4 linked regions of the Homo sapiens genome follow. The protein of the gene in region 2 purifies or fractionates together with the protein of the main gene of each other region. This does not show direct contact. Each region holds a gene or a part of one and is shown on either strand. Other genes may lie near its edges. The genes, in order: PSTPIP2, LPXN, ARHGEF6 and EDC3.

The links.
Region 1: the proteins of LPXN (region 2) and PSTPIP2 purify together in Homo sapiens (co-immunoprecipitation; 3 studies listed by BioGRID and IntAct, with this or other methods). This does not show direct contact.
Region 3: the proteins of LPXN (region 2) and ARHGEF6 purify together in Homo sapiens (co-immunoprecipitation; 3 studies listed by BioGRID and IntAct, with this or other methods). This does not show direct contact.
Region 4: the proteins of LPXN (region 2) and EDC3 purify together in Homo sapiens (co-immunoprecipitation; 3 studies listed by BioGRID and IntAct, with this or other methods). This does not show direct contact.

Annotation. Positions count from the first base shown.
Region 1 is NC_000018.10:46,069,237-46,076,087, reverse strand, and holds the start of PSTPIP2 (proline-serine-threonine phosphatase-interacting protein 2), read left to right. Parts: upstream 1-3,827; 5' UTR 3,828-3,899; coding exon 3,900-3,932; intron 3,933-6,851. UniProt on the Homo sapiens protein: Binds to F-actin. May be involved in regulation of the actin cytoskeleton.
Region 2 is NC_000011.10:58,526,344-58,530,862, reverse strand, and holds the end of LPXN (leupaxin), read left to right. Parts: intron 1-338; coding exon of another isoform or gene 339-433; exon of another isoform or gene 434-2,290; intron 2,291-2,671; coding exon 2,672-2,820; intron 2,821-3,139; coding exon 3,140-3,409; 3' UTR 3,410-3,992; downstream 3,993-4,519. UniProt on the Homo sapiens protein: Transcriptional coactivator for androgen receptor (AR) and serum response factor (SRF). Contributes to the regulation of cell adhesion, spreading and cell migration and acts as a negative regulator in integrin-mediated cell adhesion events.
Region 3 is NC_000023.11:136,742,910-136,749,942, forward strand, and holds part of ARHGEF6 (rho guanine nucleotide exchange factor 6), read right to left. Parts: intron 4,684-7,033; coding exon 4,599-4,683; intron 2,439-4,598; coding exon 2,314-2,438; intron 878-2,313; coding exon 676-877; intron 1-675. UniProt on the Homo sapiens protein: Acts as a RAC1 guanine nucleotide exchange factor (GEF).
Region 4 is NC_000015.10:74,692,997-74,700,846, forward strand, and holds the start of EDC3 (enhancer of mRNA-decapping protein 3), read right to left. Parts: upstream 3,029-7,850; 5' UTR 2,884-3,028; intron 2,820-2,883; exon of another isoform or gene 2,370-2,819; intron 23-2,369; exon of another isoform or gene 1-22. UniProt on the Homo sapiens protein: Binds single-stranded RNA. Involved in the process of mRNA degradation and in the positive regulation of mRNA decapping. May play a role in spermiogenesis and oogenesis.

The sequences.
Region 1 (6,851 bases), on a different chromosome or scaffold from region 2:
GGGCCGGGCCCGGTGGCTCATGCCTGTAATCCCAGCACTTTGGGAGGCCCAGGTGGGCGGATCACGAGGTCAGGAGATAGAGACCATCTTGGCTAACACAGTGAAACCCCGTCTCTACTAAAAATACAAAAAATTAGCTGGGCGTGGTGGCAGGCGCCTGTAGTCCCAGCTACTCGGGAGGCTGAGGCAGGAGAATGGCGTGAACCCGGGAGGCGGAGCTTGCAGTGAGCCGAGATGGCACCACTGCACTCCAGCCTGGGCAACAGAGCAAGACTCTGTCTCAAAAAAAAAAAAAAAGAAAGTGTGTGTGTGTTCTTTTTTCTTCTCATTCTAGTGACAGCTTGTTTTGCCTTGTTTTTCACTTATTAATATATCTGATGATTGTTCCATATCAATACGCAAAGAGCTTCCTCATTTTTTATGCTTGAATATGATTTCATTGGATCGATATATGACAATATATTGAGCTAGTACTCCATGGATGGACATTAATTATTTCAAGTCTTTTGCCAAAATAACCACACTGCTATGAACAACTGTGTCATCTTTTACTTTGCATATGTGAGAATATATTTGTAAGGTAAGTTTTTTGACATGGACTTAATGGGTCAAAAGATAGGGGCATTTTACATTTTGATCACATGGCCAAATTTCTCTTCACAGATATTTTTATTTTATTTTATTTTGAGATGGAGTCTCACTCTGTCGCCCAGGCTAGAGTGCAGTGGTGCAAACTCAGCTCACTGTAACCTCCACCTCCCAGGCTCAAGCGATTCTCCTGGCTCAGCCTCCCGAGTAGGTGGGATTACAGGTGCTGCGCCACCTCCGCACGGCTAATTTTTGTATTTTTAGTAGAGACGGGGTTTCACCATGTTGACCAGGCTGGTCTCGAACTCCTGACCTCAAGTGATCTGCCTGCCTCAGCCTCCCAAAGTGCTGGGATTACAGATGTGAGCCACCCTGCCCAGCCCTTCACAGAGATTTTCAATTTTTATGTGCAAAATTGTCTGCTTATAAAGTGGCTAGCCCTGTATTCTATCAAACTTTTTGTTAGAAAAAATACATTGAGTGATTTTAGAAAATACTTATGAAATACTAAGTTAAAAAAGCAAGACTCAAAATTTTATGTACAGTAAGAACTTACTCTTGCAAATATATAGTTGAAAGAGAGTATGCCAAAATATTCACAGCGATTATCTTAAATGTATTATGTCTTAAATATATTAAATAATTTCATTATTTCATAATTGCTATAATATTGTTTAATTTTGTTAGTGTCTTAGTATGTTTTCTGTTGCTTATAACAGAGTATCTGACATCGGGTAGTTTATAAAGGAAAAGAATTTATTTCTCACAGTTATGAAGGCTGAAAAGTCCAAGGTTGAGGGGCCGCATTTGTGCCAGCCTTCTTGCTGGTAGGGACTCTGTGGCATGGGGTGTAACATGGCAAGGAGGTTGATCATGCTAGTTCAGGCCTCTCTTCCTCTTCTTCTTCTTTTTTTTTTTTTTTCTGAGATGGTGTCTCACTCTGTCTCGCCCAGGCTGGAGTGCAGTAGCACTCTCGGCTCACTGCAGCCTATGCCTCCTGGGTTCAAGCGATTCTCCTGTCTCACCCTCCCAAGTAGCTGGGACTACAGGCGTGTGCCGCCACACCCGGCTAATTTTGTATTTTTAATAGAGATGGGGTTACATCATGTTGGCCTGCCTGGTCTTGAACTCTTGACCTCAGGTGATCCACCTGCCTTGTCCTCCCAAAGTGCTGGGATTACAGGCATGAGCCACTGTGCCCAGCCATCTCTTCCTCTTCTTATAAAGCATAAAGCCACCAGTTTCATCTCCTGATAACCCATTAATCTACTAACCCATTAATCCATGAATGGGACTAGTGGCCCTCGTGACCCAATCACCTCTTAAAGATCCTACCTCTCTCAATACTGTCTCATTTCAGATTAAGTTTCAACAAGAATTCTTGGAGGGGGCAACATTCAAACCACAGAAGTTAGTAAAATATCCTAAATATGTCCCTTGGATATAGCACACACTTTGTTTGTTTTTTTACTCACAATACCTGCCCCAGAGATGAGCTGTTTGAGGAATGAAGAATATTTTCCAGCAGCGTGGATGACCATTTGCAATTAAAAACTTTGTCACCAGATGGCGGAAGAGGGTTAAAATTCAGGGAGCTTAGAGTCTGAGTCGCGAAAATCAAGCACAATGTACTGTGAGAGCTTGTGAAACGTTCTAATAACTTAAAATTATACATGTATTAAAAATTAAAATGTGACAATTAGAATTGTATCTAAACTATTTTTCCAGAATATTTAAAACTTCCAGGAAAAACCTTAGTGGTGTCTTCAGCTCTCCCGCTTCTATGTCCCCAGTTTGTGCCATTTCTTACCCCCTGCAGTTAAGCCTAGCTTCCTAGTGCCTACCACGTCCTCTGCTGCCCCTTGATGGTTCTGCCAGGCTTCTCTGCCTTCCTTCTAATCTCACTGCTTTCAAAGGATATGAGCAAGTACGTAAATGGATGCATCCCTTGGAGATGCTTGGTGGCTGGAGGCCACCTCTCCATCTTTGCAGTTGTGGATGACTTTATTGGTGGGAGTTCATCTGAGTGGGGCTGGCTGCAGTTTTATGGAGCAGAACTTGTTCCAGGTGCTTCACATAATTCTAGCAATTGCCCTTTCACTGTGTCTGGGTGTAGCTAGAACCTGCTCCAGGGGTGAGTGCTTGCTTCTCCAGGCTGGGCTGGTGCCAGTCTTGGCAACCTTGACCTTTATCCTCCCCACTTTGAGCACCTATTCCTCTGCCCAGGATGGATCTGCCCCAGGAAGGATGTCTGTCTTTGCATCTATTTAGAAGGGCAGAGCTCTAACCTTGAGCTCTTCATCCCTTAAATAAACTGTGATCTTGGGCAAGCCATTCAACCCCTCTGGGCCTCAGGTTGGGCTTCGGGCCTGTCGCACCAGGCAGTACTTTGTCATAAGCCCTGCATTACTATTAAAAGTCATGGCAAAAACCGCAATTACTTTTGTACCAATCTACTACAATGCAGAGAGGGGTCTGACCTGCCCTGGGGTTTTATTTGTGAGGGTGGAAGAGTGGAGGGAGAAGAAGGAATCTTGGGCCCCTCTTGCTGGGGTGGAATGGGCAGGGAAGGGTCTTGCCTTTTGAGAATGGAAAGGGAGTCAGAGAGCGGCTGAGCTCCTGGAAGCCCTGTTAGGACACCACCAAGTGACTAGAGTCAAGGGGAAACAGCAGAGATGACCTCTCCATGACATTTTAGACTAAAACGTGACCCCATTCATTAAAAACACCTGCAACAACAAAAAGTAAAATAAAAAATGAACCGTCCCCCAGGGCCTGATCTGCAGCAGGTGCCGGTGGGGCCCGCCGTGAAGCCAAGGCGTCTGCGGGAGTTGTCGGCCCCAGGCCTTCTGTAGCTTAAACCGGGTCCTCGCGACCATCTGATCAGATCCCGTCTATCACCCCGCAGAGCCTGGATTTCGTGCTGTCCAGGGGGCCTTGTGGGCAGGAACCCAAGCCAGGACCAGTTATTTCCAATACCCAAAGACTTCCAGAAGGAGGCAGCTAGCTTCGGGCTGATATATTGATCGTGGCCCGACGCTGTGGGGCTTTAAATGGGCCTGGGTCCGGGTGCGGGCTGCAGCCCCTGGCCGGGTGAGCGCCGAGGGTCCCGCCCAGGTCTCGCGCAGGGAGCGCAGAGCGCCGACGGCGGCCGTCGCAATCGGGAGTGGTTTAGGACCCGGGGGCGGCTTCCCTGCGCGAGTGTGGAACGCAGAAGTTGAGTCTGCGGAGCCGCGGGCAGTGGCAGTCAGGCCTCCCCGCTCTGTGCTACCTGCGGCCCGGCTCTCCTCCGCGCCCCCACTCGCGCTGCGATGACGCGCTCACTGTTCAAGGGAAACTTTTGGGTAAGTCGTGGGGCCGACAGCGGATCGCGGGGCTCAGGACCCGGCCCGGGCGGGAGGCCAACGCGGCGGGCGTGGGGGGCTCCCCAGCTCCGGCGCCACTCGGTGACCGCGCGCCCGGGGGCTTGGCGGAGCTCGCGCGTGAAGGGATCGGGGCCCCAGCCCCACTGCTCGAGGGGCAGACTTGGAGCGGACGCCGGGCTGCTGTTCCCTCTCTGTCCCCCGCTACCCACCGCGTGCCCGCGAGTCCCGGGGGCTCGGACTCCAGGGCCCACCCTCTGCCGCCCGCGCCCCCAGCAGCGCGTGCTCCTGAGGACGCAGAGAGCCGAGACACCTTAGAGTCAGGACATCAACCCCTCCTCTCACAGGCGAAGCAGAGACCCTTAGGGAGGCGAGACCCGTCCGGGGAGAGTCTCTGCCGGTCCCTGGAGCTGAGCCGTGAGAGGATCTGGGGGGATCTGGTGTGGGGGCTTGTGAGCTTTACCGGGTTGACAGCAGCAGCTGCCCCCCGGGATCGTCCTTTCCAGGAAACGTACAGCATAGAGGGCTTCCCTTTGCTGGAGCTTTCCCTGTTCTACAGCCTTGTTTCCCGAGCCCCCTCCCCAGGCCATTGCCCCAGCCCTTCCGTCCAGGCCCCATAGCGGGGCTGATGGTGTGGGAGACCCTATAAGCTGGAGGGGGTACCCCACCCAGCCCGGTAGGGCCAGCCCAGCCTGGAGGGAGCAGGTCTGCCTGTCCCCCTCCTCTGTCTAGTCCTCTTCCCTCTGTCCTCTCACTCCCCAGGTGCCCCTCAAGGTCCATGCCCCCTCATTCAGAGGAGCTGTCCTCATCCCTTTAAGACAGGAGCAGGAGGCTGCAAACCTCAAAGTTGACCGCAGCTGCCAAGGGGCCCTGACTCCTTACTGGGGCTCCTGCTTGCCTCCCCCCACCACCCACCCAGGTAGCTTCACAGCTGCCTAGATGGTCCCTCTACCCCACGTGGGCTGCAGGGTAGAGAAACCTGGCTGGGGACCTCAGGGACACAGTTGAGACTGTGCCTGTGAGTCCCTTCACTGGAGTTTGTGAGGTCCTTCTGGGGCACTACTCACCCTAGGGTGCAGGGTGGTGGCAGCCTCACAGAGGAACCAAGGGCACCACAGATGGCTCTCACGGGAGGCTTGCGAGTTTTTCAGGTAGAATGGAGGACTGGGGGATCCCATGGCAGGCACTGTGGGAAAAAGGCTCTGTATAATACAAACTGGAGAATGAGATGTGGGCCCCAGAAATAAGGAAGTCAGCAGAGGAACTGGTTCGTGGAGACATAAGGAGAAGGAGGCAGACGTGATACTAACAGTATTTAGTTCAGGCACAGTGGCTCATGCCTGTGATCCCAGCACGTTGGGAGGCCGAGGTAGGAGGATTGCTTGAGGCCAGGAGTTCGAGACCACCCTGGGCAACATAGTGAGACTCTGTCTGTCTCTACAAAAAAATCTTAAAAATTAGCTGGGCATGGTGGTGCATGCCTGTAGATATAGTTACTTGGGAGGCTGAGGCAAGAGGATTGCTTGAGGCCAGGAGTTTGAGGTTGCAGTGAGCTATGATCACATCACTGCACTCCAGCCTGGACGACAGAGTGATTTGTGTTTGTCTCAAAAACGAACAAACAAACAAACCCAACCAAACAACACAATCCTCAGTATTTAGCCACAGTTTTAGCACTGGCAAGGCTAAGGCCAGGCGGGCGCTAAGCCCCTCCCCACCAGCCTCCACCCCTCAGCCCCATGCCAGGGATGCTGGATACGGGGAGGTCTTAGCGGAGAGGGTGACAGGGTGAAGACAGGGTTCCAGGCCACAGAGTTTGCAGTATTTTAATATCTTCACAGCCAGTACAAACATGTCAGTGAGTACTCTCTAATGTCTGGTGGGTGACATGCAGGGTTTGAGGGGCTGGTGGAGATGGCCCCGCCCCTTGGGAAGATGTCCAGTTTTGAGAGCTTACCGAACAGCATGAAGCCTCTGAGGTGGGCTGCCCGGGCTTGAATCCAGTTCTGCCCCTTACTAGCTAGGTGACCCTGGGCAGCCTGCTTCCGCCCCCAAGCCTCAGTTTTTCCATACATAAAAATGGGGATAATAACAGTGTCTACTCCTTAGGACCGTTGGGAGGATTAAACTTGAGAGTTTAGTACAGTGCCTGACACACAGAGAGCACCTATAGTTGCCAGCTATTATTATCAGCAGTAGAGGTGACAAGTAAAAGAAGTGAGTGATGGTTATTCAAGGAGAAAGAATGAAGAGATCGGAAGTCCACAAAGAAGCACTCTTAGTGCATGCCTCTATTGATGGAGGAGGAGAAAGGGGACAGAGAAATAGAGGAAGAGATGAAGGGATACAACCAGGAAAGAGCTATCACAGGCCCAAGAGAGGGACATTCCAAGGAAGGTGAGAGGACTGTGGTCAAACGTGTTTGTACATGTTCCTGAAAAAGTATGAGTCAATACACACTTCATAAATGAATGTATTTAAATGCTTCATGAAAATATTTATTTAAAGAAATCTTCGATGAATCTGCTTCAAAAGGGAATAATCAGTGTTTAAAACTGGGCTTGGAGCTGGCGTGTGCCTGTAGTCCCAGCTACTAAGGAGGCTGGGCAACATAGTGAGACCCTGTCTCTAAAAATCATTTTAAAATAAATGAATAAAACTGGGATTGGCCCCCAATGAATTTGCCTGCTATTGGTACATACCTGTGTGTTGTTTCTCTCCCACCCTTCCCTGTTTATACCTTCTTTGTGGCACTTTGGTTAAGCAGTGCTGTATAATTTCTCTTGGTTAACTTTGATTGTATCTTGTCAGAATAAGACAGTGACCACAGTTTCCAAAGATCCAGGGAAACAGCCAGGCCACAATGAGAAAAAATTCCAGTTTTTGGGATGATCAGACACC
Region 2 (4,519 bases):
GCCTGTTCCTTCCTTTGGAAGCTTCATCCCAGCAGGGCACCCACCAGATGCCAGCCAGAGCTCTCCTGTATGAGGTGTCAGTTAGCCCCTATTGGGAGGTGTCTCCCAATCAGGAGACACGGGGGCCACAGACCCACTCAAGGAGGCAGTCTGACCCTTAGCAGAGCTCGAACCCTGTGCTGGGAGATCCACTGCTCTCTTCAGAGCTGTCAGGCAGGGATGTTTAAGTCTACTGAAGCTGTGCCCACAGCCACCCCTTCCCCTGGGTGCTCTGTCCCAGGGAGATGGGGGTTTTATCTATAAGCCCCTGACTGGAGCTGCTGCCTTTTTCTTTTCAGAGATGGCCTGCCCAGAAAAGAGGAATCTAGAGAGGCAGTCTAGCCACAGCAGCCTTGCTGAGCTGCGGTTGGCTCCACCCAGTTTGATCTTCTGAGTGGCTTTGTTTACACTGTGAAGGTAAAACCACCTGCTCAAGCCTCAGCAATGGTGGATGCTTCTCCCTCCACCAAATTCTAGTATCCCAGGTCGAGCTCAGACTGCTGTGCTGGCAGTAAGAATTTCAAGCCAGTGGATCTTAGCTTGCTGGGCTCCATGGGGGTGGGACCTACCGAGCCAGGCCACTTGGCTCCCTGGCTTAAGCCCCCTTTCCAGGGGAGTGAACAGTTCTGTCTCGCTGGCATTCCAGGTGCATCTAGGTTATGAAAAACAAAAAACAAAAAAACTTCTAAAGCTAGCTCAGTGTTTGCCCATACAGCCGCCCAGTTTTGTGCTTGAAACCCAGGGCCCTGGTGGCGTAGGCACAAGAGGGAATCTCCAGGTCTGCGGTTTGTGAAGACTATGGGAAAAGCACAGTATCTGGGCCGGAGTGCACTGTTCCTCACGGCACAGTTTCTAATGGCTTCTCTTTGTTAGGAGAGGGAGTTCCCTGACCCCTTGTGCTTTCTGGGTGAGGCAACACCCCACCCTTTTTCGGCTTGCCCTCAATGGGCTGCACCCACTGTCCGATCAGTCTCAATGAGATGAACCGGTTACCTCAGTTGGAAATGCAGAAATCACCTGCCTTCTGCATCGATCTCACTGGAAGCTGCAGACCTGAGCTGTTCCTATTCGGTCATCCTGCCAGCAATCTCCAAATTATTTATTTTATTGCTCATGTCATCAGTTTGATATACAGTTAATTTTCTTCAATTTGATTCAATTTTTTAGGGATTCATGTTTTTCCATTTTAATTTTTTTACTTTTTTTTTTTTTTTTTGAGACAGAGTCTCACTATCTCCCAGGCTGGAGTGCAGTGGTGCGATCTCGGCTCACTGCAAGCTCTGCCTCCCGGGTTTACGCCATTCTCCTGCCTCAGCCTCCCAAGTAGCTGGGACTACAGGCGCTCGCCACCACACCTGGCTAATTTTTTGTATTTTTAGTAGAGACGGGGTTTCACCGTGTTAGCCAGGATGGTCTCGATCTCCTGACCTCGTGATCCACCCGCCTCGGCCTCCCAAAGTGCTGGGATTACAGGTGCAAGCCACCGTGCCCGGCCAATTTTTTCACTTTTTAATTATGTACAACAATAGTTGAAACCATACATATACTCAGGAGTGGAATATAATTAGCAAATATTTTCTTCAGATTGTTATTTGTCTTTGTTTATGGTGATTTTTTGACATGTGTAAGTCATTCAGATATATTTTTATGTAGCTAAATTTATTAATATTTAACTTGCTTTTGGAATTTGGGCTTTATTTATGACAGTTTTTCTGTTTCCAGATTAAAGAGGAATACATCATTAATGACAAGATATGAAATGCAAATGCACACATTAAAAAAACCCTAAGTATCATTAGCCTTTCGGGAAATACAAATCAAAACTACCATGAGATAACATTGTATAGATAGATAACATCCATTTGATTGATTAAAAAGGAAATATATGGATATATCAAGTGATGTAAAGACTGAGGAATAATTGGGATTTTCATACACTGCTGGTAAACAATAAAAATAATATACCCACACAAAAAATAAAAAAAGGAGGAATACATCTATTTTTAATTCAAATATATGGTATGAGTCATTGTGTTTAGATCTTGCATCCATCTGGAAATTATTATTTAGTAGTATTTTATTTTAAAATATCAGATGCTTTTTTTCTTCCCAGATGCTGTTTTAGATATTAGAGATATAATGGTGACAAGATCAACAATATCTAGTTTCTCTCAGAGCTAATGTTCCTGTAAGGGGAGACAGCCCACAAAGATGATTTTAAATAAAGGTAAATGCCATAAAGACGGTGAAAGAAGATGATGTGACAAGGAGGGACTGAAGAGATGCCTCTCTGATAAGATGATATTTGAGTGATTCTTGCATCACATGAAGAGGACAACTATATCAGGCTCTGGGACAGAACTATCCAAGCCAAGGGAATACTTAGTACAAAGGCACTGAGGAGCAATAGCCCCTAACACTTATTAAATGTTTACTATGAACCAGACACAATGCCAAAACACTTCCTCTGCATTATCTCATTTATTTCTTACAACTACCCTTTGAATTAGGTAACAGTAATCATCCTATTTTGAATATGAGGACACTGAGATTGAAAGGGCCTCCTCTCAGTCTCCAGTGTAGCTTTCAGGGCTCAACCTGCAACAGTGAATTCCTGATTTTATCTCTCCAGGCTTTCATGAGAAGGACAAGAAGCCATATTGCCGAAAGGATTTCTTAGCCATGTTCTCACCCAAGTGTGGTGGCTGCAATCGCCCAGTGTTGGAAAACTACCTTTCAGCCATGGACACTGTCTGGCACCCAGAGTGCTTTGTTTGTGGGGTCTGTATAATCACTTTTCTTTCGGACTTAGGGAAAGTCAAGGGTTCTCCTCTCTGAGAGGAAGAGCTGCAGTTAGTGAAAGGGTTCACAGTCCTGAATGAGGAATGGATGTGCGCATCCTAAAGGAGAAACGAGATACAGATCCATTTGCTTGTCTGTTTTGCAAGCGGGAAATCTAGTCTCCATTTGTCAAGAACCTGAGGGAAATTCCTGTAGCTGGCAGGTAACTGTCAGGAATTTCAAGGCTGAAAATTTTACTTTGCTGACATTTTACCTCTTGACATTTGCATTCTTTTTCTCTCTCTTCTCTCTACCCCAGGACTGCTTCACCAGTTTTTCTACTGGCTCCTTCTTTGAACTGGATGGACGTCCATTCTGTGAGCTCCATTACCATCACCGCCGGGGAACGCTCTGCCATGGGTGTGGGCAGCCCATCACTGGCCGTTGTATCAGTGCCATGGGGTACAAGTTCCATCCTGAGCACTTTGTGTGTGCTTTCTGCCTGACACAGTTGTCGAAGGGCATTTTCAGGGAGCAGAATGACAAGACCTATTGTCAACCTTGCTTCAATAAGCTCTTCCCACTGTAATGCCAACTGATCCATAGCCTCTTCAGATTCCTTATAAAATTTAAACCAAGAGAGGAGAGGAAAGGGTAAATTTTCTGTTACTGACCTTCTGCTTAATAGTCTTATAGAAAAAGGAAAGGTGATGAGCAAATAAAGGAACTTCTAGACTTTACATGACTAGGCTGATAATCTTATTTTTTAGGCTTCTATACAGTTAATTCTATAAATTCTCTTTCTCCCTCTCTTCTCCAATCAAGCACTTGGAGTTAGATCTAGGTCCTTCTATCTCGTCCCTCTACAGATGTATTTTCCACTTGCATAATTCATGCCAACACTGGTTTTCTTAGGTTTCTCCATTTTCACCTCTAGTGATGGCCCTACTCATATCTTCTCTAATTTGGTCCTGATACTTGTTTCTTTTCACGTTTTCCCATTTCCCTGTGGCTCACTGTCTTACAATCACTGCTGTGGAATCATGATACCACTTTTAGCTCTTTGCATCTTCCTTCAGTGTATTTTTGTTTTTCAAGAGGAAGTAGATTTTAACTGGACAACTTTGAGTACTGACATCATTGATAAATAAACTGGCTTGTGGTTTCAATAACTCATTGTCATATTTGTTTGGGAGATAAACTTTCTGCTTCCCGTGTTATATACTAGGCACTATGTACAATTAAGATTATATCATACCTCGTTTCCTTCCATCCAATGCACACTTTAAAATTTTTAATCAGAAGAAATTAAAAGGAGGGTCTCCTTTTCACTAATTTTTCTTTTTTTTCTTTTTAGTTTGGTCCCATAACCATTTTATTTTCTAGACTTAGATGATTGAATCATTTTTAAAAATGACAAAGCTTCTTAAAATTGTTTTTATTACTTTGTTTACAGGAGGAGAAACCCTGGCTCTCCATTAGAAACCTTACAAATTCATTTCTTTTTCCTTTTTTTTTTTTTCTGAGATGGAGTTTCGCTCTTGTTGCCCAGGTTGGAGTGGAATGGCGCGATCTCGGCTGACCGCAACCTCCACCTCCTGGGTTCAAGCAATTCTCCTGCCTCAGCCTCCTGAGTAGCTGGAATTACAGGCATGCGCCACCACACCAGGCTAATTTTTCTATTTTTAGTAGAGATGGG
Region 3 (7,033 bases), on a different chromosome or scaffold from region 2:
GGCTGCAGTGAGTTGTGATAGCCACTGCACTCTGCCTGGGCAACAGAGTGAGACCCTGTCTAAAAATAATAATTAAAAAAAGAGAGAGAGAGAAGAAAAGACTACTGAAGAGCAATTCGATTTCATTCTCTGGCTATTGTTACAAAAAAAAGGTAAACAGCTAGCAGTATTCAGTGAGTTAAGGGCAATCTTGTTCAGCATCAAAGCGGCCAGACAGCTTCCTGCAGCCCTATCATTATTATCTCTCATGTCTGAGGCATTTAGTCTCAGGTCTGCTTACAGGGCTTAAGGCTAAAAAAAGGAAGTTAGCACATGGCCTCTCTTATTATTGGATTCTGCCATGGTAAGTTTTAGAGTGGTGAGAAGGACTATGTACTATATTACATGGGCTAGAATTAGTAGACATAAAGGGATACAGTTAGGGTGGACCAGTTGTCTGAGCTTTGAATTCCTTTGCTTTTTTTATTTTTCTGCTGCCTTAATGTAATCTAAATACAATTTGTTTCAAAATATCTAATCACAGATTTTTCCCAGTTCTGTTCTACTCTTATTTTTGGCATACACATACAAGTATAAACAGCTTCTGTTAACCAATTAAAACTACACAATTTTCAGTAAGAATACCAAGAAAGTACAAGAGTCACAATCAAAAAGCCTTTTAAAAACTTCACTTACCACTGGATTTAATTTCACGGACATAATTACTGGGGAACCAGCCTGTTCTCCCATTTAATGTGCCTTCCCACCAGCCTCCTTCTTCAACTCGTGTGACGTAAATGATGTCCCCCTTACAAACTGACAGTTCATCCTCATTAGTCTGCTTAAAGTTGAATCTTGCTTTTACTATCAACTGATGACTTCCATTTTCCGTCATCTCCTAGAGAAACAAAAGCCACACCAGATTAAGCACTCATCTAAATAAGGCAGGGGTAGAAATGATATGGATATAGGCAAATAAAGTGGAGGAAGCAAAGACAAAACCCCAGATCCATCTCAGTCCTGAGTTTTTAACTTAGGAATCCATGAATGGGTCTCAGAGGGATTAATAAATCCCTCAAAACAGTATGTAAACTTTGGCATTTGTGAGAATCTGTATTTTGAAGTGGGTCATAGCTTTCATTTTTCTCTCCACACCCCTCCCCATTATCTAAAGATTATCTATTTAACTAAGCCAGATAACAAAGTAGAGTGATAAGCTATTCCACCCTGGATAAGCTATTCCACCCTGCCTCTACTCAACACACAAACAGTCCACATAATTATATAACCAAGATGTACTAACCTACCCTCCATAAAATCTGCCTCCCATCTCCTAATTACTAAGGATATCTTAATTTGGCTAAGACTTATTTATATGCAAAGATCAAATAACCCATAGTTGCCTAAGTCAGGAATTCTTTTTTCCATTTTTTTATTTTTATAGATTTAGGGGGTACAACTGCAGTTTTATTACATGGATATATTAAGTCAGGAATTCTTAATCTGTCATGTATAAACTGGACTTCCTTTTTGAGGGTCACAGACCCTTTAGAGAATCTGATGAGCACAACATATTTTTGTCTAAATAAGTTCATACACATGGGCTTTTGTATACAATTTGAGAGGGTACCAGGGGTGTAGAGACATAGTGTTCATCAGCCTTTCAAAGGGATCTGTGATCCAAAAAAGTTAAGAACCACATGCTCAAGTGCTTTGGAAGTAATAGGTCATAATGTCTTACTGCAAGTGGGTGGCTTTTGACAGGAAATAAAGGTTTCACCCAAAGAGCAGAAGATGAGGCATTTCCTCCCAAATAAAAGCTCCCAATAAGAGCAAGTGAAAAGGCAACTGGGAGATCCTAATATAGAAGCTCATCATAGACTGAAATTTAAAATCAAGCCTTCCTCATTAGGAATGGAAAGAGAAAAATAAAAATGGCAATAATAATGAGGATACTAATCAATATTTATTGATTGCCTACTATGTGTCAGGCACTATTTAGTTCTAATAAAACAAGGGATAGGGAAATTAACAGCAAACTGCCATCAGAAAGTAGCCATAATGACTTCCATTTGCATAGCATTCTCAGTTAAGTGACTTGCCTAATTCTCGTAAGGGACAGAGCTGGAGCTTCAATCCGGATTTTTGCCCCACCACATGCCTTTGATTTGCTCCTTCGGGCCAGCCTGAATTGGTGCTCGGTTTATAATTAGTTTTCTCAGTGATGCCCAAAACAACCCGGATGGCTGTCTCACCACATATGGAGATGCAACTAGGATATCAATCTAATTTTATGGATTTTAAAACAGACGGAGAATTGGGGACTATACTTACCACTGTCTTTGACTGCCTTTGCAGCCCTGAAACTGTGCTAGAAACTGCTCCCTGTGGGTTTGTCTGAGAAGTATTAGCAGCACTAAGAGAAGAGGAACGTCCACATGGTCTTTCTGATAGCTGATCTGTGAAAAGAGGAAAAGGCATGTTAAAGGAACCACTCAGATCAGAAAAACATCTACCGCATAACATTATCTTTCTCAGGATACTATCAGAGGCATCCTGGCTGTAATTCTAACTGTTATCATTATGAACATGCCAAGTGTATTTCAATCCCCCTTCCCTTTTTGGTGGCCAACTTCCTGTTCTTAACCTTACTGGCCATCGTGCTCCAGTAGAATGAAAAACAGCGACAGAACCACATTTTCTCTTAACCATTTCCCTACAACTCTTCCCTCCTGAACCAGTTGCAACAGTATGCCCTGTTATCCAAGGCAGAACTATATTGGGTACCAAACAGCTGTTTGTGGCTCTTATTACTTTGAAATATTTCAAATTTCTCTCTTTGTTTTTTGGCCCATAACTCAGTGGCTCATTTCTTACTCACACGTAACAATATGTGTGGCATATATGATGTAAAATCTCCCTGATGTGTGTGGGGCAGGGTGGAGAATGAGAGTGAAAGAGAAGATGTGTTTGGGAAAGATGTAATCTTGATACTAGAATAATTTTTTTAACAATCAGATTCAAGAGTCTTCTCTTCCTTGAAACCTTGTGAAATTCGACCAGGCCAGAGCTGAGCTGGATGTTTTCAGTTTGTTGAGAGTATACAAAAGAGAGGAGCTGGCTTCTTGACAAATTTCAATAAGGGTTCTTTTCCTCTCCATTTATTTTTAAAAGATATAAACTGCAAAAGTCTAAAGCCCAAACATTCCCTAGGCGACAAGCTCAGTATCCAAGTAATTTCCTTGATGCTGTGGGTTTTAACTTTCACCTCCTTGTATTTTATAAATATCTGTGGCAAGGGAAGAGACTGTAAAACTTGCTAGGAGAGTTTGGCAAAGGAACGTATAATTTGTGTGGCATAATGTTAGAATTACACGATCCTCCCTGACTAGAACTGGATAGTTGTCATGTGTGTTAAATATAGTTACTTGAATTAGCTGTACTTTCAGCTATACGCCTTGCAATAGCTCAAAAGCATTTTTTTTTCCAAATAGCAAAAGAACAACTTTGGAGAAGTATTTTTACTTGTATTGCTATTATATACAGCTCTTTTGACAAAAACTATAATTACTCGATAGCTTCCTAGATGCTCTAACCTATTTGGCACTTGATTATATTGTCTGCTCTTGTCCTCTAATTGTTTCACGTGGGTAAGTTGAGTCTCCTTAAATAGACAGTAATTTTCTCAAAGGCAGGGACCATAGCTTTGACATTTTTTGTAGCACCTGGCGATGCTGGGCACACAGCCTCTTGACTCTACAACAGTTTGAGCAGCAAGCCTCGTGCTTGGGCATAAGGGCTCTGTAGTCATTCAGATGTGGGTCTGAATCCCAACTCAGCGACTAACTTTCTAGTTGGGCAACTGTTGGCCTGACTTTCCTTATCTGTAATATGGACCTAATAATAATAATACCTACCCCCAGTGTTGTTTCAAGGATTGGATGAGATCACCTGTGGCTCTTATGACAGCCTAGATCCAGGGCAAGAGCTCAAAGCATTTTAAGTATGATTATTACTATTCAGCTGTTGGTAAAATATACCAGGGAAGGAGTGAAGCTACATTCTAAGTGTATCATCATTTTCTTCACATTTACTAGCATTTATATTTAATACCTCTAGTGTGGTAGGTGTTAAACATTTAAATAAAAGATATTATTTTCACTCCCTATGACCCCAAGATTTCATTTTTGGTGCAAGGCTACTGAGGGGTTCCTTTACATGGACAAAGGCATACATAAAACAATGAGAAAAATATGTCTCTAGTGGGGAAAGGGAAGTGACGGCTGTATTTTGTAAACTCTATGAAAAAGGGAACTGGTCTTTCCTTTTTCTTCTCTGTTTTGTTATACTCAGTTGGTGATTCAGAGCTTTGAATGGAATAGTTTCTTAGTTCTTATCATTATATTAAGGGCATTAGAATAACATCTATGATAGGTATATTTTAAATCCTAAGCCATGAAAAATTCAAGCATTTGACATTTGTTGGGGTGTATTTGGGGGAGCAAGGGGAAAATTTGCATCACGAGAACAATCCTGGCCAGAGTTGGCTCCTAGGGTAATCACAAACACATGGATTCAAAAATGTCACCCAGAACATATAAATCACAAGCCCGGCTTACCTTCTGTTGCTTTGTTGACAGCTAAAAGAGTACTCAGTACCTTGGAGAAATTGACCCCTGAATAAAGGTCATCAGGATCAAATATCTATGAGAAAGGAAAATTGAAACCGTAAGACACTACAAGTATTCAACTCAACAAACAAAACTATCAAAAGGCCACTTCCTCCAGCTCTCCGGAAAAAAAAAAAAAAAAAAAAAGTGTAGAAGCCAAGACACAAACCTCCATATACCTTTGGGAGAAATGAGAGCAGCAGTTGAGCCGCCTAATGACATGTGGCAGGCCATCAGTGAGTCAGAGCAAAGCAGTAATGGGAAATGAGAGCCAAGCTGAGAAGGCAGCGCCCACCAGGAAATAAACAGTGCATACTCAGACCCACTCTTCTGGCCTGAATGTATCAATAGTTTCAGCCCAGTTACAGGAAGCTCATATGCATGGGTTACAATCAATGCCCATCACCTACATAATGTCCTCGACAGTCCATAAATAAGGAGGTGGAGCCTTTTTGACATGGTTGCATCTGTACAGTTTATTAGCTGTGCCTAGTTGAGTCACTGTCAAAAGTGCCTTTTTCTCTGCTCTCCTTCCTCCCAACTGCCACCCGCTGCATCCCAACTGCCTAGGATCCCAATTCCATGTTGCCCAAACTTTCTGCCCAGGTCTGCCTTTTGCTCCCAGCTTCAGTTCTGTTTCTGCTGTTTGACCTTGCCCCTCTCAGCTCATCATGAATTCAAGTATTTGCCTGCCTGGGCCTATGGGCTCTTCCTGGCTTTAGATGACTTTCCCAAATATGACCTCTGGCCTGTCTAATACTACTCAACTCTTGGCAAAAAACACATTAAGGAAATACATTTCACTTTACCAGTCAACTGTCAATCTGATATGCTATTGTCCCCAGTGAAGATACCAATCAGATGTTGTTTTCAATACAATTTACCTGTTACCTTTGAAATGTAGTCAGTGTGTTAAAATATATTGAGTCTCAAATATGTATATTTGAAATTAGAAGTGTTCTCATGCACAGGTACAATCTATTAATTTGCCAGCCAACAATGTAAGTATGCATATCTGAAGGTAACCAGATGCCCACCTTCTGGATGGAAATGCCCCTTCTAAAAACATTTTGTTCCAGGATGTCTAGAAGTCTCTTAAAGAAAACAGATTGCATCATTTTTTCCCCAAATGTGGTGATGGAAATAAAATGTACCTTTTCATATGGGACATGATTGGTAATGGGCATAGGATTTTAAAGGGTCTGTCTTCCCATTAGGTAGAGCCATTTGTTCCATTTTTAAGCTGCATATTTTCTGGGAACCATATCAAGACAAATTTCTATCTTTTTTGTACATGTTCTTGAAAACCTATAATCTGTTTTTAGAGTGAAAATATATAATATCAATTTTTCACGTTTTGGGGGGTCAATAAAGATACATGCAAATGCAAACCTACACAAGTCTGCCTATTCTAGGATTCACTGCTTTATTCATTTAATCAATGAATATTTTGCATTCAAAGTTAAAATGACCAAAAAGCCCAGATGCATCTAAAAATGAGACATTAATATATTTCTGGTAAAAGAGTAATGCTAATATTACTAAAGAGTTAAACAACAACACATTCCAAATATATTTCTGAATGCTACAATATAAAATTCAAACTTTTCCAGAAATACATTGACAAGAGTTTTGTTTTAGTTTGTCAAAGCCTGGGTGAACAAGAGGCAATAGACTAGAGAGAGTGTCTAGTATCTCCGGGGATTTCAGACTTATTGAGTCTCCCTTAGAACTGATCAACTGGGAAAATGTTAATGACATGTATGCCAAAATAGTAGCAAAGCAAAAAAAATCACTTGTTTTTAGCCCATCAGTCCTAATGGGAGTGTGCATGTGTGTGTGCATGTGGATACATGTTTTGGGTGGGTGTGGTAGAGATGAGTAGATCTAAAATAATAAGCAGAAGTTAAATATTAGCAGAATAAGGCATGAGAGCAAAAGTTGTGATAAAAAACCTCTCCCTCTGGTTTTAGTTGTTCCTTATCCAGGGTTATTAAATGCCTATACATGGCAACACTGGTATTATTCACTTGTACAAGTACTTGACTGATTTTGAAAATAAATAAACTAATCAGAAAATGAAATGTGCATCAAGAAGAGTCATTGCATCTGCTTGAGGGAAGTTTCCTGAACTGTACTCGGTTCTCTTTTGAGAAAACCCCAATATACTCAAGTTTATCCATGGACACTGTTCTTGCTGCAAGCCTATTCTGAGGCACTAGAAACTACAGAGGAAGGAGTTGGAAGAAGCCTCTGGGAACTGCTAGAGAAAGCAACGCCTAAGCATTATTATTTCAGAGTAGCTGGAGAATCAGATACAACCACAAACACCCTTCACCACACTATACCTTCTAAGTCCTAAATTGAATGATATTGAAAATTCC
Region 4 (7,850 bases), on a different chromosome or scaffold from region 2:
GACCCAGCCTATACCTGAAAGCCTGAAATGACAAGGAGAAAAATAATCATTCATGCCAAAGCAACACCACCATATCTTCAAACTTTTGACTTCTGCCCATAAATTTACTCTTAGCACATCTAGATCTAAACCTAATATTCCAGGTACAAGCCTACCAGTGATGCAACCTTTCTCATTCTAGATTTTGCATTTTCCTGATACAATATACTAATGCAGGTCACATCGGTTCTTCTCACAGCCTTCTTAACCACACCACTGATTGGTGATTAAAACATCACATCTTTTTATTATAGAACTCCTGTGAGGTCACATCTCCACCCTCCCCTAATAGGTATAGTTGATTTTGTTTGGACCCAAGCGCAATTTCTCACATTTATACATGCTTCCTTCATTTCATTAAACAGCACTGAGCAAATTATATTGAGATCTTTTCCCATTCTGGCAATCACCAACCAAATGACTCTTTCTTTACTTCACAAAGGCACCAAATCCAATAAGCAAACCTTCTAGATAAGGTCTCAAATACATGAAGTATATAAAGAAAGTGATGAAACCCCAGTTTAGATCACCGGAATTCCAGCTGTAAGTAGTGTCCACAAATCAAACCTCTCCATACATAGATTTTCAAACTCATGACTCCATCTAACTACCACAATCTGGCAAATTCCTCCATCTCGCCCACTCAGTTATAGTAAGACTCAGTAAGACCAGGCGCGGTGGCTCACACCTGTAATCCCAGCACTTTGGGAGGCTGAGGTGAGTGGATCACCTGAGGTCGGGAGTTCGAGACCAGCCCGGCCAACATGGTGAAACCCCATCTCTACTGAAAATACAAAAATTAGCCAGGCGTGGTGGTGCATGCTTGTAGTCCCAGGTACTTGGGAGGCTGAGGCAGGAGAATCGCTTGAACCAGGAGGCAGAGGTTACAGTGAGCAGAAATTGCACCACTGCACTCCGTCCAACCTGGGCAATGGAGTGAGACTCCATCTCAAAAAAAAAAACAAAAACTTCATAAATGCCTTGCTAAAATTCTGACACACTATCATTATGGTCACTACACTCCTTTGAGCCACAATTTGGATGTCCTGTCCTGTTGTTCTGGCTGAATTTAGGAGAACTCTAGTAAGCCCTTCTCTGGATAAGAAAAGAAAAATGATACATCTTCCATTTTGTATTAATTACAGAATCTCACAAATGGCAAGGATTTTAAACATTTTCTAATGTTGTTTTTCTTAGACAGAGTCTTGCTATGTTGCCCAGGCTGGCCTTAAGCAATCCTCCCACCACTGCACTCGGCCCTAGTCTAATATTTTTCTTTTCTTTTCTTTTTTTGAGAAGTTTAGTTCTTGTTGCCCAGGCTGGAGTGCAGTAGCATATCTTGGCTCACTGCAACCTCTCCCTCCCAGGTTCAAGCGTTTCTCCTGCCTCAGCCTCCCAAATAGCTGGGATTATAGGCACCCACCACCACCCAGCTAAGTTTTGTATTTTTAGTACATACGGGGTTTCACCACGTTGCCCAGACTGGTCTCCAACTCCTGACCTCAGGTGATCCACCCGCCTCAGCATCCCAAAGTGCTGGGATTACTGGCGTGAGCCACAGTGCCCGGCCTTAATATTTTTCAAACTATACGTCATGACCTATTAGGGGTCAGACTCAATTTAGTGAGTTGCAACCAATATTTTTTTAGAGTGCATCTTCTGTAGAAAGGGTAAGTAAACTTTTCATTGGTGTGTGTGTGTGTGTACACACTGAGTGTGCAGGGGCACAATAAGTCATGATGTATAATATATCTAACTGTGGGTCACAGGTAAAAAATTTTGAGACACTTTTCTAGCCCCACAGCCCTATGCCAAGGAGGCTCTACCAAGAAATTGGTAATAAACAAAATGTCATGTTTTTACATCATACAGAGAAACTAGCTAAGAGGATTTTGTGCTCAGTACACGTAATCTGCCATTCATTAAAAAAAAAAAAAAAGATTAGGATCCATCTGGGTGTCCAGTTGAAATACTAAACTGCTTGGAGACAGCCATTTCTGTTTTGGTGGGGTGAAGACCTGTATTTGAGACAGCAGACTGAAATCGGTTTGGTCTGTGGCGAAGGAAGAGAAGAAAAACCATTCTGGGTCGCGAGTTCCTCACCTGTAACCACAGGAGAAGACTGTTGGCTTGGTCAGTTGATTTTCAACTAATCTCCCAATTGAAGAGTTAGGCGAAGCAATTGCTATTGGGAGATTAACTGAAAATTAACTGACCAAGCCAACAAGGACTATGCCTCCCACAAACCAAAACACTTTAACCACTCAGCAAGTCAAGTATTGATACATACAATCAATATCACACAAAGTGTACTGAAAAGAACCACAGACTTGCATCAAAGGCAGAAATGAATCCAGGGATAACTTCCTGGGATTCGAAGATGTGACCTGGTAGGTATAAATTTCTCAGGCATCCTCTTTTTCTACCCTCCAGTTCATCTCCGTCCTCAAGCTATCAGTCATGGATGTGGCACTGGCGTTCTTCTCTGCCACCGTATCTCATTATGCAAAGGGAAACTGAGGCACGAAGAACAGAGTGAGTGAGCCAAAGAACTGCAGCAGCCACCAACAAGGCTGGACTAAGGGCCCAAGCAGCTAATGCCTCACTCCCCACACAATCCCCATACTATTTAGAATCCTGCAGTCCTCAGCCTTCCACCTCAAACCAAACTCCTGGGGCCGCCCGTAGTACGTGGTCCCCTGCTCATCCGATGAAGCCCCCAGCTCTTGCCTGCCTGCCTGCCTCTATAAAGGTCTACGAGGCCTGGAACTCTGAAGCCTAAAGCAACCCCGGCAGCCCCCTCCCACGACCGTCCACAAACCAGTAGCCTCCCTTCGCTCCCACCTCCGCGCCGACGGGCCTGGAGCTCCTCCGCACACCACACCAAGCCGACCACTCAACACCAGAGGACCCACAGAAGAATTCTCTCCACGCCCACCCCCACAGCATCGGCCTTCACCACCGCCGCCGCTGCCGGAAGCGCCCCCACGTCTCCACGCCACCACCGTGAGGTCACTTCCGGCGCGACACCTTGGAATCCAGGGCCGTCAATTGAGGGGCGTGGCACCCGGGAAATTTAAGAGGTTGGAAGAACGTCCCTTCGGCCTTACAGAATTGCGCTTGGGTAGTCATTTTGCCCTCCACGCTTACTTATGTCCTGTGGCGTCTTGGCTGGAATCGGGGCTCTACCCACGACTCCCCAGCCTCGATGCCTGGGCCCCCCTCTTGCAGGCTCGATGAAAAGCACCCGCTTCCCCTCCTGTTACCCCAGCGCCAATCGCAGAGCTGGAGCGGAGGACTTTCAGGGAGGCCTGGTGACGTGACAGCCCCTCCGTGCTAAACTGCAGCTGTGGGACTTAATAAGTGCGACAACCCCCTGATGGATTAAAGAAAACAAGATATTCCTGCCGTGGTCGATCTTCAAAGCGTATCAGCTTCAGCCCTTTTGGGGGTTAAAATCAGCCAGTCCGTGCTTGACTGCTCTCCCTTCCCCCATACTCAGTACACAGGAAAGTGCCGCTCTTCTACCCCTGGCATTTTAGAGTCTTGATTTGTGGGGAGACGGGAAAGCATGCGTTTAGGGCCAAGACCGTGTAATGAGGAATATTGCACAGCCTTGAAGCCTGACACCTGGTTTGGGAACCACTACTTGGGCGAATAGCATAGAGTAGGGTAGCAGTTCCAAACCTAGCTCTACAAAATCAGTTGAAGAACTTTGTAAAATCTACACTTTCTAGGGGACTGCTTCACCCTTCCCCCTCCATCACCAGAGATTCCCTAGGTCAGAAGGGGTCCTTGTCTTTTAAAATTACTGTTATTAATGAACACTTATAGAGCAGTTTTTGGTTCAGGGCAAAACTGAACAGAAAGTACAGAGTTCCCATATATCCCCTGTACACACAGGCACATACACAACTTGTCCCCTCATGGACATCTTGTGCTACAGTGGTACATTTGGTAACAATTGATTACCCAACTTTGACACATCATTATCACCCAGAGTCCATAGTTTACATTAGAGTTTACTCTCGGTGTTGCACATTCTGTGGGTTTTGACATATATGTAATGACATGTATCCACCATTATGGTATCATACACGATAGTTTCACTGCCCTGAAAATCCTCTGTCCTCTGCCTATTTATCCTTCTCAGTCCCCTAACCACTGGCAACCACTGCTCCTTTTACTGTCTCCATAGTTTTGCCTTTTCCAGAATCCCATATAGTTGGAATCATACAGTATGCAGCCTTTTCACATCGGATTCTTTCACTTATGCACTTAAAGTTCTTCCATGTCTTTTCATGGCTTGATAGCTCATTTCTTTTTTGTGCTGAATAATAATATTCCATCGTCTGGATGTGCTGCGGTTTATCCATTCACCTACTGAAAGACATCTTGGTGGCCTCCAAGTTTGGGTAATTATGAATAAAGCCGCTATACATCATGTGCAGATTTTTGTGTAGACATGAGTTTTCAATTCATCTGGGTAAATACCAAGGAGTGCAACTGCTGGATTGGATGGTATATTTAGTTTTGGGAGAAACTACCAAACTGCCTTTCAAAGTGGCTGCATCATTTTGCATTCCCACAGCAGTGAATGAGGGTTTCTGTTGCTCCACATCCTTGTCAGCGTTTTGTGGTGTCAGTATTTTGCCGTTCAAGTAAGTGTGTAGTAGTATCTTATTGTTTTAATATGCAATTCCCTAATGACATATGATATTGAACATCTTTTCATATACTTACTTGCCATGTGTATATCTTCTTTGATGAAGTGTTCATTCAGGTATTTTGCCCATTTTTACATTGTGTTATTTTCTTGTTGTGATTTAAGAGTTCTGGGTATATTGTAGATAACAGTCCTCTATCAGATACGTCTTTTATAATATTTTCTCCTAGTCTGTGGCTTGTCTTCTCATTCTTCTTTTGAAGAGCAGAAGTTTTAAATTTTAATGAAGTCCAGCTTATCAATTATATTTTTCACAGATTATGCTATTGGTATTGCCCTAAAGTCATTGCCATTCCCAAGATCAGTTAGGTTTTCTCCTGTGTTGTCTTCCAGGAGTTTTATAGTGTTCCATTTTACATTTAGGTCTACAATCCATTCTGAGTTAATTTTTATGAAGGGTGCAAGGTCTTTGCCTAGATAATTTTTTTTTTTTTTTTGAGACGGAGTCTCACTCTGTTGCCCAGGCTGGAGTGCAGTGGCACGATCTCAGCTCACTGCAATGTCTGCCTCCTGGGTTCAAGTGATTCTCCTGTCTCAGCCTCCCAAGTAGCTGGGATTACAGGCACCCGCCACCACACCTGGCTAGTTTTTGTATTTTTAGTAGAGGCAAGGTTTCACCATGTTGGCCAGGCTGGTCTCGAACTCCTGATCTCAATTGATCTGCCCACCTCGGCCTCTCAAAGTGCTGAGATTACAGGCGTGAGCCACCGTACCCGGCCTGATACATTTTTATGTGTGTGAAAATTCAGTTGTTCCAACATAATTTGTTGAAAAACCTATCTTTGCTCCATTATATTGCTTTAACTCCTCTGTCAAAGATCAGTTGACTACGTTTATGTGGGTCTACTTCTGGATTGTTTATTCTTTCACCAATACCACATTGTCATTATTACTGTAGTTTATAGTAAGTCTTGAAGTTGGGTAGTATCAGTCCTCCAACTTTGTTCTCCTTTAATAGTGAGCTGGCTCTTCTAGGTCTTTTGTATCTCCATATCAATTTTACAATCAGTTTGTCGACATCCACAAAAATAATATGCTGATACTTGGATTGGGATTGCATCGAATCTATAGATCAGGTTTGGAAGAACAGACATTTTGACTATATTTTCTTTCTATCTGTGAACATGAAATATTTCTCAATTTATGTAATTCTTTTATATCTTTGATCAGAGTTTTGTAGTTTTACTCATATAGCTCTTGTATATGTTTTGCTGTATAGATTTATAACCTGATGACTTTTTTTTTTTTTGAGACAAAGTTTCACTCTTGTTGCCCAGGCTGGAGTGCAGTGGCACGATCTCAGCTCACCGCAACCTCTGCCTCCTGGGTTCAAGTGATTCTCCTGCCTCAGCCTCCCGAGTACCTGGGATTACAGGTATGCACCACCACGCCCAGCTAATTTTGTATTTTTAGTAGAGATGGGGCTTCTCCATGTTGGTCAGGCTGGTCTTGAACTCCCGACCTCAGGTGACCTGCCCGCCTCAGCCCCCCAAAGTGCTGGGATTACAAGCGTGAGCCACCCAGCCTACCTTTTGTTTCTCTAAATCTGCTCTTTCTGAAGTTAGTATACCTACTCCTGCTTTCTTTTGATTAGTGTTATCAATGATATATCCTTCTCCACCACTTTACTTTTAATCTATGTATGTCTTTATATTTAAAATGTGTTTCTTGTAGACAACATATTGTTGGGTCTTGTTTTTCATCCATACTGAGAACCTCTGTCTTTTAATTGGTGTATTTAGATGACTGATGCTTAATTAATGATATAGTTGAATTAATGTCTACTATATTTGTTACTGTTTTTTTTTTCATTTTTTGTTGTTGTTGTTTGTTTTTTGAGACACCGTCTCGCTCTGTTACCCAGGCTAGAGTGCAGTGGCATGATCTCAGCTCACCACAACCTCCATCTCCTGAGTTCAAGCGATTCTCCTGCCTCAGCCTCCCGAGTAGCTGAGATTACATGCACATGCCACCACAACTGGCTAATTTTTGTATTTTTAGTAGAAATAGGGTTTCACCATATTGGCCAGGGTGGTCTTGAACTCCTGACATCAAGTGATCCACCAGTCTTGGCCTCCCAAAGTGCTAGGATTATAGGTGTGAGCCACCACACCAGGCCCTTTTTTTGTGTGTGTGTGAGTTGGAGTTTCACCCTGTCACCCAGGCTAGGGTACAGTGGTATGATTGTGGCTCACTGCAGCCTTAAATCCTGGGCTCAAGCAATCCTCCCACTTCCCAAGTGGTGGTACTATAGGTGCCCACCATCACACCTGGCTAAGCTTTTTTTTTTTTTTTTTGAGATGGAGTCTCGCTCTGTCACCCAGGCTGGAGTGCAGTGGTGCCATCTCTACGAAGTGAAACCCCGTCTCAATGCAAGCTCCGCCTCCCGGGTTCATGCCATTCTACTGCCTCAGCCTCCCGAGTAGCTGGAACTACAGGTGCCCGCCACCATGCCTGGCTAATTTTTTGTATTTTTAGTAGAGATGGGGTTTCACCGTGTTAGCCAGGATGGTCTCGATCGCCTGACCTCGTGATCTGCCCACCTCAGCCTCCCAAAGTGCTGGGATTACAGGCGTGAGCCACTGCGCCCAGCCTGCTAAGCTTTTTTATTTGTTTGTTTGTTTTGTAGAGACAGAGTCTCACTATGTTGCCCAGGCTGCTTTTCAATTCTTGGTGTTAAGTGATCCTCCTGCCTCAGCCTCCAAAAGTATTGAAATTGCGGTGTGAGCCATGGCACCTGGCCTTGTTACTATTTTCTGTTTGTTACCCTTATTTTTTATCTGTATTTGTCTTCTACACATTTTCTGCCTTTGGGGTGTGTGTGTGTGTGTGTGTGTGTGTGTGTGTGTGTGTGTGTTTATGTGTGTTTGAGATGGAGTCTTGCTCTTGTTCCCCAGGCTGGAGTGCAGTGGTGCCATCTCAGCTCACTGCAACCTCTGCCTCCCAGGTTCAAGCGATTCTCCTGCCTCAGCCTCCCAAGCAGCCGGGACTACAGGCATGTGCCACCACACCTGGCTAATTTTTGTATTTTTAGTAGAGATGGGGTTTTGCCATGTTGGCCAGGCTGATCTCAAACTCCTGACCT